Linked DNA regions of Homo sapiens: region 2 is linked to region 1. The links come from fine-mapping of genetic effects on gene expression. A gene starts in region 1. The other region holds a variant in brackets. All regions are shown on one strand. Distances are between the middles of the regions. Region 1 holds the start of RASGRP1 (RAS guanyl releasing protein 1). Region 2 has its middle 50 kb from the start of LINC02694.

Region 1 (4,395 bases):
TCAGAGGACTAGGCCATGAGAGAACAGGGAGAAGAGAAAGTACTAAAAGCCAAAGTGCAGCCTCAGAGTTCTAAGAAGATGGGGATTATCTGCACCATAGACTAGGAAACCTGGCTTTCTTGCTGTACAGTCTCTTAACTGGTTGCCTTGTGAAAAATCCTCAAATCGTTCTGCCTTTTCTGGTGAAATGGGAGTAGACAAGGATTTATAAAATGCTCTATTATAGGCAGGTCGAAGGTGTTTTAACAATCCATAGAATGAATGGCCTCTGAGTCTGTAAAGGCATATTTTTTAAAAAAATACAGTAGCCAAATGTTTTCCTGTAAATGAAAAAACCAAAACCCCGAGAGAAACAAATTAACTTGAAGGTGTTTTCCAAGCCTAAAAGTAACCAAAGCCCCATAGGTTTGCTGAAGGAGACCGTCAAAACTCTAAACTGGTTTAGGTGAAATCCTCTCCAGGCATAGGTATCTCAGTGGAGGTCAGTTTCAGGCTGAGCTTTTTATGAAATCCGCCTAGAAAAGTAAGAGATGAAATGGAGCAAGGGAACTGGAACTTCCACAACTTTCTTTGCAGTGGAAGGTGACTCTCTTGACTTCTAGTATGGATTCCTTCCAGTCCCGTCCTCTTCCCCTTACAATACTCAATTTAATGTACTGAACTCCTCCTTCTGAATCTAGTGCAAAGTACAGTGGTGGACCCTCAGGGGATACCTGGATGGGGAGAGGCAGGGCGTGCATACAGGGCCAAGAATCCTTCGTTCCTGGGATTATAAGCACGGGAAGTCCAGCATCGCAAGCTTCCTGCCGCTACTGGGTATGGTGGTGCAAGGCACAGTCCCATCAGTGTCGATGTGAATGGAGTTGTGAAGTGCACAACTTGTCCAGCCCCTACGCCGAGGCCAGGCCTTTGTTCATGCAGTTGCCTAGTTCTGGTCCTTTGGCTACAAACTCAAAGCTGCCTGGCCAAGAGCCCTTTCACTCACTGTCCCTCTTTCTTCAACTTCTGTTATCCAAGACCCTCTATAGAATCATAGTGAGGGGGAGAGGAGTGCAGCTTCCCATACGGAAGGCGATATGTTTCCCTGACCCACGGATCTGGAAACTTCCGTGGGGCAGGGGCAACCGAGGGGTGCCACCTCTGCGGGCTCCCTGCAAGCTCCTCGGCCGTTCTGGGCAGGGCCGGGAGGGGCCACCAGGTGGCGCAGCCGGAGCCCAGCGCCCCAGCAGGTGCGGGCAGCGCGGAAAGTCCGCGAGTGGGAGTCCCGATGCCGGGCGTGGAGATGTGGGGGAGGAAGTCGGCGGGCGGGCGCCGGCTCCGCGAAGAGCTTCGGCCCTAGCAGATCTCACCGGACGAGCTCTGGCCTCGCGGCCGCCCCTCTACCACCCCTCAGCCCCAGCTCCCTCCCCGAAACCCCGGGCGCAGCGCGCCGGGCGTTCTGGACACGTCCGCCCGTCGCGCTGGTGTCCCGGGACTCCGGCCGACCCCGGCCCCCCTCCGCCCTCAACTTCCCTCGGGGTGTTGGGGCGACGGGCAGGGGCCTCTTTCCCAAGAAAGGACACAGGCGCTCCCGAGGGCCACGGCCGCCTCTACTCACCGCGGAGCCTCTCTCGCCTTGCCCAGGGTGCCCATGGCCGCGGCCCGCGCTCCCGGTGCCGGCTCACCTAGCGCGGCCGGGCGCGGCGCATCGCCCCCGCCACCACCGCCGCCGCCTGCCGGCTCTCTCCCCCCCGGGCCTCGTAGCCCCGGCGCCCGCCAGCCCTCGAGCCCGGCGAGCCCGACCGAGGTGCACCGCAGGCACAAACTTTGTGCGAGCGCGCCCCCTCTGCCTCGCGCGCGCGCTCACACCCGCCTGGCAACCACCTGACACGCTGATGCTGGCGGCTGCAGGAAACGTGCGGCGCCCCGCCGCTCTTCCCCGAAACCTGCCCCCTTTCCGCGGGTGCCCCGGCCTGCGCCTCGCGCGGTTCTCTCACCCCTGCCCGCCTTCGACCTCTCTTGGCCAAAGGGTTAAGTCTCAGGGGAGTTGGAGAGGAGCGGGCTCCCGGCTACCACGCCCGCGCCTTGCAGGGCACCTGTGCCCGTCGACCTCCACCTCAGCTCGGGAAACGGGCTGCGCCTAGCGGCTCCCATGGGACCCCCTTTCCCGCAGCCGACCCGCAGCTTCCACGCCTCTTCCTGCGGCCGCTGCTCGGAGCACTGCAGTGAGGACGCCTTCTCCCCTCCAGGGCCTCTCCTGTATATATCAGAGCGCGGAGTCCGGCAGGGGAAAGGAACGGAAAGACAGTTGTGAAGTTGCCTTAACCTGTGCCCTGGGGTCTCTAGGTAGCCGTCTGCAGGACTGGGCCGTAGACATGTGCCCTGTGCCCTGCGCCCTGCACCTTGGACGAGGGCTGCCTGTGTGGAGGTGCGCTCCACAGGCGTGATCCATATCTGGCCCAGACGCGGCCGCCTGGCGTCGGTGGGTGTAGGAGATGTGGGGACAACTTTCATACAACGTCAGTGCGCACAGAAGACCTGGCCAAGAGGGGCGGCCCATCCGCTGCTTGTCCAGGTGATAGTGCTGATAATCTCAATAGCTAATGATTGAGTGCGGTTGTGCTAAGTGCTTTCTATACATTACCTCATTTAATCCACTCTCCCTGATACAAAGAGATCACTGTTGTAAAGATGAGAAAATGAAGGTTTAGAGAATGCTATGCCTTAGATCATACAACTAATAAACAGCAGAGAGACCTCTGACTTGGACTGAGGTCTGTCTGACTCCCTGTAATCACTGCTGGACTGCCCTAATAACACACTCATTATCACGGCCACAGACCATAACTCTAGCCACAGTCATAGTTGTCTTCCTGGCCATAGTGTTCTGGACTTTAAAGCCTTCCTCTGTTTCATTTATATATTTCCTTATATTTATATGCTACCTTGTCCTTAAAACAGAATTCGAGATAGCTTACAAGAGCACATAACCTACAAAAAGAAGTGTGTGAAATGAAAAATGAGGCACACAAGATGGAGCCAAAAATGAACATCATTTGAAATAAATGCATCTCATAGAGTCAAATACCCTTGCTACAGGTGGGACCAAAATTTGTCTCCTGCATTTCTAGCAGTCAAGTTTAAAGAGAGGCCTTGTCTAAAGTTCAATTCCTATCACATGCAAGACCAAAAACAAAATTGCTCAAGAGAAGATCCCCCTTTCTTGATACTGAGACCAGCAAGAAATTTCTCCAGAGAATCCTCATGAACACTGGGTGATATAAAGAACCAAGTCCTCAGTCACAGCCACAGATGCAGAAGGGGCAGGTGAATGTCAGGAGAATATTAAATGATGACACTCTTTCTCACTCACTGGGTCTAAGGCTCAAACATTTTTAGAGTTATCTATTATACACCCTTCCTCATGTAAGCCCTACAACCTAAACAACCAAGTTGGCGGATGTCTGAGGATGGTAAAGATTTGTATCTATATATGAATCTATCTGACTATCTCCCAACAGTCCTAAGTTTGCAGTCTTAGACTTTGTTCACAGAGATCTTCTCTTATTACCAGGTGAACAATTACTTTTCACTGACCCCTCTACTACAGAATGAGCTCTTTACCCTACTTAAATCTATAATATTTACACTTTCAATTGCCACATAATATTCTGTGTCCCTGTCTTACCTCCACAGCTAAACTGTAAATTGTCCGAGGTCAAGAATCAGGTCTTATGCTTCTTTAGCTTCCACAGCTGCCAACTTGAGGCAGTACCTGTGGGACATTACTAATGAACTGCTGTGGATTTGATTTTGAAAAGCAAAATGTGCTGACCTCAAAGAAGAAAATAAGATCCTTCCTGATTATTTCCGGAGAAAGGGTTTCAGTTTTTCTTTGAAGTCCGCTGTCTATGGCAGGAGTGATAAGCTTACTGGCACTGTCCCCGGTGGCTTTCGTGGGATCCCCATCACAGGTTATCCGAGGCCTTCGGTATTTCTCTATTGCTTCACCCTTGAAAATAGAGCCCCTTCCATGCCATTCATTGCACTGAGTCTTTGGACAGCAAAATCTTTGTGTGTGGCAGGGGAATAATCCAGCCTTATACTGCATATGCATAGGTATGTATGCCAAATGGATGCCTTTATGTAAATGCATCATTATATTTATATGTAAATATACATATATGCATAATACTAAGTGCACATGTAGGCAGTTACACACATCTGCACACCTACAGTCCACATATATACAAATGGTTGAAACCAAGGTTATTAATTCATTCAATACATGAGTCTTGCTGAGTTTTCTAAAGAAAGAGGCCTACATATGCCCAGCGAGTGTTTTTCTCTTGGACTTTCTGAGTACTCTGCACTTCACTTGCATCTGATTCTGCTTCTGGGCCCCCTCGAGCTCTT
Region 2 (4,395 bases), 81 kb after region 1:
TAATAGGATCAACAAAATAATGAGTTTTGGGGATGTAATTTCAAGGTGGAATTAAAAATAGAAGAAAACTATTACATGTAGAATAGGAGTTTACTGAATTTAAAATGTTTTAATAGTCTATTATTTATAAGAAGTTAGAAATATTGGTTAAATTAAGATTTCTGTTGATTAATCATATATAAGAATGTTAAGGGTAATCTCAAAATATAGAAATAGAAAATATTGCTTTAAAACCAGAACAAGGCAAAAGAGGAAATAGAAAATATGATAAATCCAACAGTTTAAGGGAAAAAAAGAAAAAGAAAAGAGTAAATAGAAAGCCCAAAACAGAATTACAGAAATAGGTCCAAATAAATATATCACTAATCATTATAAATGTAAATGGCCTAAATTCACCAGTTCAGATACAGAGACTCAGATTCTTTTAAGAAAAACTGACTTTAGGCTGGGTGGGGCGGCTCACACCTGTAATCCCAGCACTTTGGGAGGTGGGCAGATCACCTGAGGTCAGGAGTTTGAGACCAGCCTGGCCAACATGGTGAAATCTCGTCTCTACTAAAAATACAAAAATTAGCTGGGAGTGGTGGCGCATGTCTGTAATCCCAGCTACTCATGAAGCTGAGGCACAAGAAATGCTTGAACCTGGGAGGCGGAGGTTGCAGTGAACTGAGATCCAAGATTGCACCACTGTACTCCAGCCTGGGCAACAGAGTCAGACTCTGTCAAAAAAAAAAAAAAAAAAAAAAAAAGAAAAAACTGACTTTAAAACCTTGATATGATGGTTTCAAAATACAAAAGTATAATATCACAAAAAGTTGAAAATAAAATAGTGGTAAAAGAGATACTATGAAAATACTAATACAAGGAAAGCTCGGGACTCACACAAATATCAAATAAAATAGACTGTAAAATGAAAACATTATGCATGAAGATGATTATTTTATAGCAATAAATAGGAATAACTTTTACAATTAAAACTTTAAATTAAAATCCTGAGTGAGCAAGTATCTAGCAACATGGTCTCAAAATATGTAAACCCCAAACTGAAGAACTTCAAGGAGAAATCGACAAATCAACAACCACAATAGGAAATCGTATTGTATACATTAGTTAGAAATTGATAAATTAAGAAGACAAAAAAATAGGTAAGGGCATAGGAATTTTGACTAATATGATTAACATGGTAGGTATGATGGATATTTATAAAATTCTGTACACATGAATTAGGAAATATATATTCATTTTAAGGGTAAATGTAACTGTTACCAAAATTGATCACATGGATTGAATTGGCCTGGGGTAGATCTCAGGAATCAGTTTTTTTCTAAAGTTCCCCAAGCAATTCTAATGTGTAGTCAGGATTGAGAGATGCTGTATTATAGCAATTTAAAATGCATGGCCTGTATTTTCATGTAATTATGCGAATACATCTTGAAAAAGCTGATGTTGAGAAGAAAAAAGCCAGTTACAAAAGGAGCATGTATTATGTTTATGTCAAATGTTTAAAAACACAGTAGTTTATTTGTGATAAAAGTATAAGTTGTATGTTATAAAAACACAAAAATATGTATGAAGTGACATAACTCTGGGGAGAGAGAGGAGGGAAAGGGTTGGAGAAGGACACTAACTAGACATTGAATTATTTCTAAAAAATAAAATATTTCAAAATATGAAAG[G/T]TCAAATCTGGGCCAGGCATGGTGGCTCATGACTGTAATCCCAGCACTTTGGGAAGCCGAGGTGGGAGGATTGCTTGAGTCCAGGAGTTTGAGACCAGCCTGGGCCACATAGCAAAACCCTGTCTCTACAAAACAACAACAACAAAAGGTCAAATCTGGTGGTTGGTGTATGGAATGTTGTTATATAATTTTGGTCCTTTTGTGTATTTGAAATATCTCATATTTCAAAAATTGAACAAAAAATAAATTCATAGATGAATTAGGTCTCATGTCCACTGTGCAATACAGAGAGCATATCTATTGACCAGGGAAGGAGCCTGTAATTGTTTTTTTTCTTATAAGGTTTCACAGCATGACATTGTCTTGGTGATTCCACAAAGGAGCTGAATCTTTCAGGCTCAAATTTTTGATTTGTCAGCACATCAGTTAAGTGAGAAATAAAACTTTTTTTGGACCTAAATATTCCTCAGTGATAGGTACATTCGCAGACTCACATTACATTGGAAGAGGATCCCTATGGAGATGTTTGCTTAGAGAGCACCAGAATTAGCCTAAGAGGAATTGTTTAAACAATAGCATGTTCAATAGCATCAGGCTCTGATAACCCCTGAGGCAGTTATCTCATAATGGGATTGGCCTTGGCAATATGATTGAAAGTCTCAAATTCCGTTTGCTGAGATTCTCTCGCTCTGAACAGAGCTGAATGAGCAGAGTCTACATCTGACTCTGTGAATATCATTTTTTTGGGCTTTCAAGGCCTTTGCTACCCTCCATACATCCAATCTGGATTCACCACTTTCCCTCTCTGCTCCCATACCTCTTTGCAGACTTCTGTTGGCACTGAGGATGTGAAAATTTCAAATTATGTGTCTGTCTCCCCAACTGGACTGATTGCTCCACCAAAGGCAAGAACCACGTCATTTAAACTTTCCATCCTTTAAGTCCTTGATGCTGGTTGCAGACTATTTTGAACTCTGCTTCTGGGCATGTGGTAGAATTGTACCTCCTGACCCCCTGAGGCCATCTGGCTGGTTCTGTATGAGTGTGATTTGTGCCAACCCTGGGCCGGAGAAGCTGAGACCTTCCCACCCCCTTGGCTATTTCCTTGGCTGACCAGCAATGTAGAGCAGTGAGTGCTCTGTCAACCCAGGGCTCTGAGTGGGCATGATGGAGATGAAGAACAGATTGCCAGCCAACCCATGCTGCATGTTCAGTGTGAGTGTGAAATAATCCTTCTTGGTTTTAAGTCACTATGATGTGGGACTGTCTGTTACCACAACATTAGCAAGTCCATCCCGACTGATACGTATCCCCAGCATCTGGTATGATGCTGGCACCTATAGGTGCTTAATAAATGTTTGCTGAAAAAACTAAACTAGTCTGGGAGAATATTAAATAAAATAGTGTTTGTGAAAGTGTCAGGCATCTAGGGAGCACTCAGTAAATATTAATTGGATCCAAGGAAGGCATCTATATTATGTTTCTTTTTCTTTTTAGAGACAGGATCTTGCTCTGTTCCCCAGGCTGGAGTGCAGTGGCACTGATTAATCATAGCTCACTGTAATCACTAACTCCCAGGCTCAAGTGATCCTCCCACCTCAGCCTCCTGAGTAGCTAGGACTACAGGTGTGCACCACTGTTATGCCTAGGTAATTTTAAAATATTTTTGTAGAGACGGGGGTCTCACTATGTTTCCCAGGCTGGTCTTGAAATCCGGGCTTTAAGTGATGCTCTTGCTTTGGCCTCCCAAAGTTCTGGAATTACAGGTATGAGCCAACCTGCTCAGTCTTAGGTTTCTTTCTAAATGCATACTTCAATTGTGTGTGGGAACGCCTGTCTGGTGGAATGAAAATTAAATTACTAAATTAGATATCATTATCAAGAACAAGAGGAATATCATTTATAGCCAAAGATAAAAAGTGATTACAAAACACATTTCTCAAGCAGAATATTTAATATCTCAAATTAAACAAGCATCCAATAAAAAAGAGTCAGCATTTAAAATTCTGTGGTAGATCTCTTATACTCCAGGTAGGTTGTGTAATTTCTTTCAGAATTACTCATTTAGCTCTTCACTGCCCTCTCCAGGTTCCACAGGTTTTCCTGAGATGGGGAAAGACTCATTTGTTACCAGCAGTGGGGAGTTGCAAGGAGGAGGGATAATGGGTGCTAAAGCATAGGAAATATTTATTTTGAATAGTTTCCTTGGCTTCTGTAATTGTTGCTACTGCCTGCAATGGGCATGACAGCTGAAATAGGGCTTCTTAATAGCTAAACTCCAAGCAAACCTACTTAGTAAGTAAGCAGCCACTAATGTTTATTGAGTATGTAACAATGTCCTAAGAATTTATGAAGGGTGCAAAACATAAATAAAGTTCCTCCCGACAAGGAACTTGTAAAGTACCTGGATGAACTTTGCGTAAGAGGCAACTTGCAAATGTACAAGGGATGATCACTGGTCTGTGTTGGGCAAAGCCCAGGTTGCGTGTGTCGGCCTGTGTGAACACGTATTTCCTTTCTGTATAGAGAATGAATTGCCTCTTGTGTAACTGTGCTAAATGAAGTGCTTGTGTATGTTATCTGCTTTTCTCCTCTAGGAAGAAGAGCTGCCAGGTCCTGGGAGAACAAGAACAGTGCTTTCTCCAAATTTTAACAGGAGTACACGGTGGGAGTGAGAGCTAGTTTTCCTGTAGTAGAAGCTGAAGACAGAGTAAAAATA

What was found. PIP is the estimated chance that this variant, and not a neighbour inherited with it, causes the effect.
Region 2: its variant is the best candidate, but not a certain one, in a credible set for the expression of RASGRP1 in whole blood (TOPMed, PIP 0.71).

The regions. Positions count from the first base shown.
Region 1 is chr15:38,562,997-38,567,391 of GRCh38, forward strand. RASGRP1 (RAS guanyl releasing protein 1) reads right to left here and starts at 1,818. Exons shown (of 17, transcript NM_005739.4): 1 at 1,598-1,818. The coding sequence starts at 1,632. RefSeq lists silencers at 1,115-1,314, 1,325-1,544, 1,575-1,814, 1,975-2,024 and enhancers at 1,882-2,393, 2,235-2,424.
Region 2 is chr15:38,644,140-38,648,534 of GRCh38, forward strand. No RefSeq gene overlaps it. Among named protein-coding and RNA genes, the nearest start is that of LINC02694, 50 kb to the right of the region's middle. The variant G/T (reference allele first, on the strand shown) is at 1,677.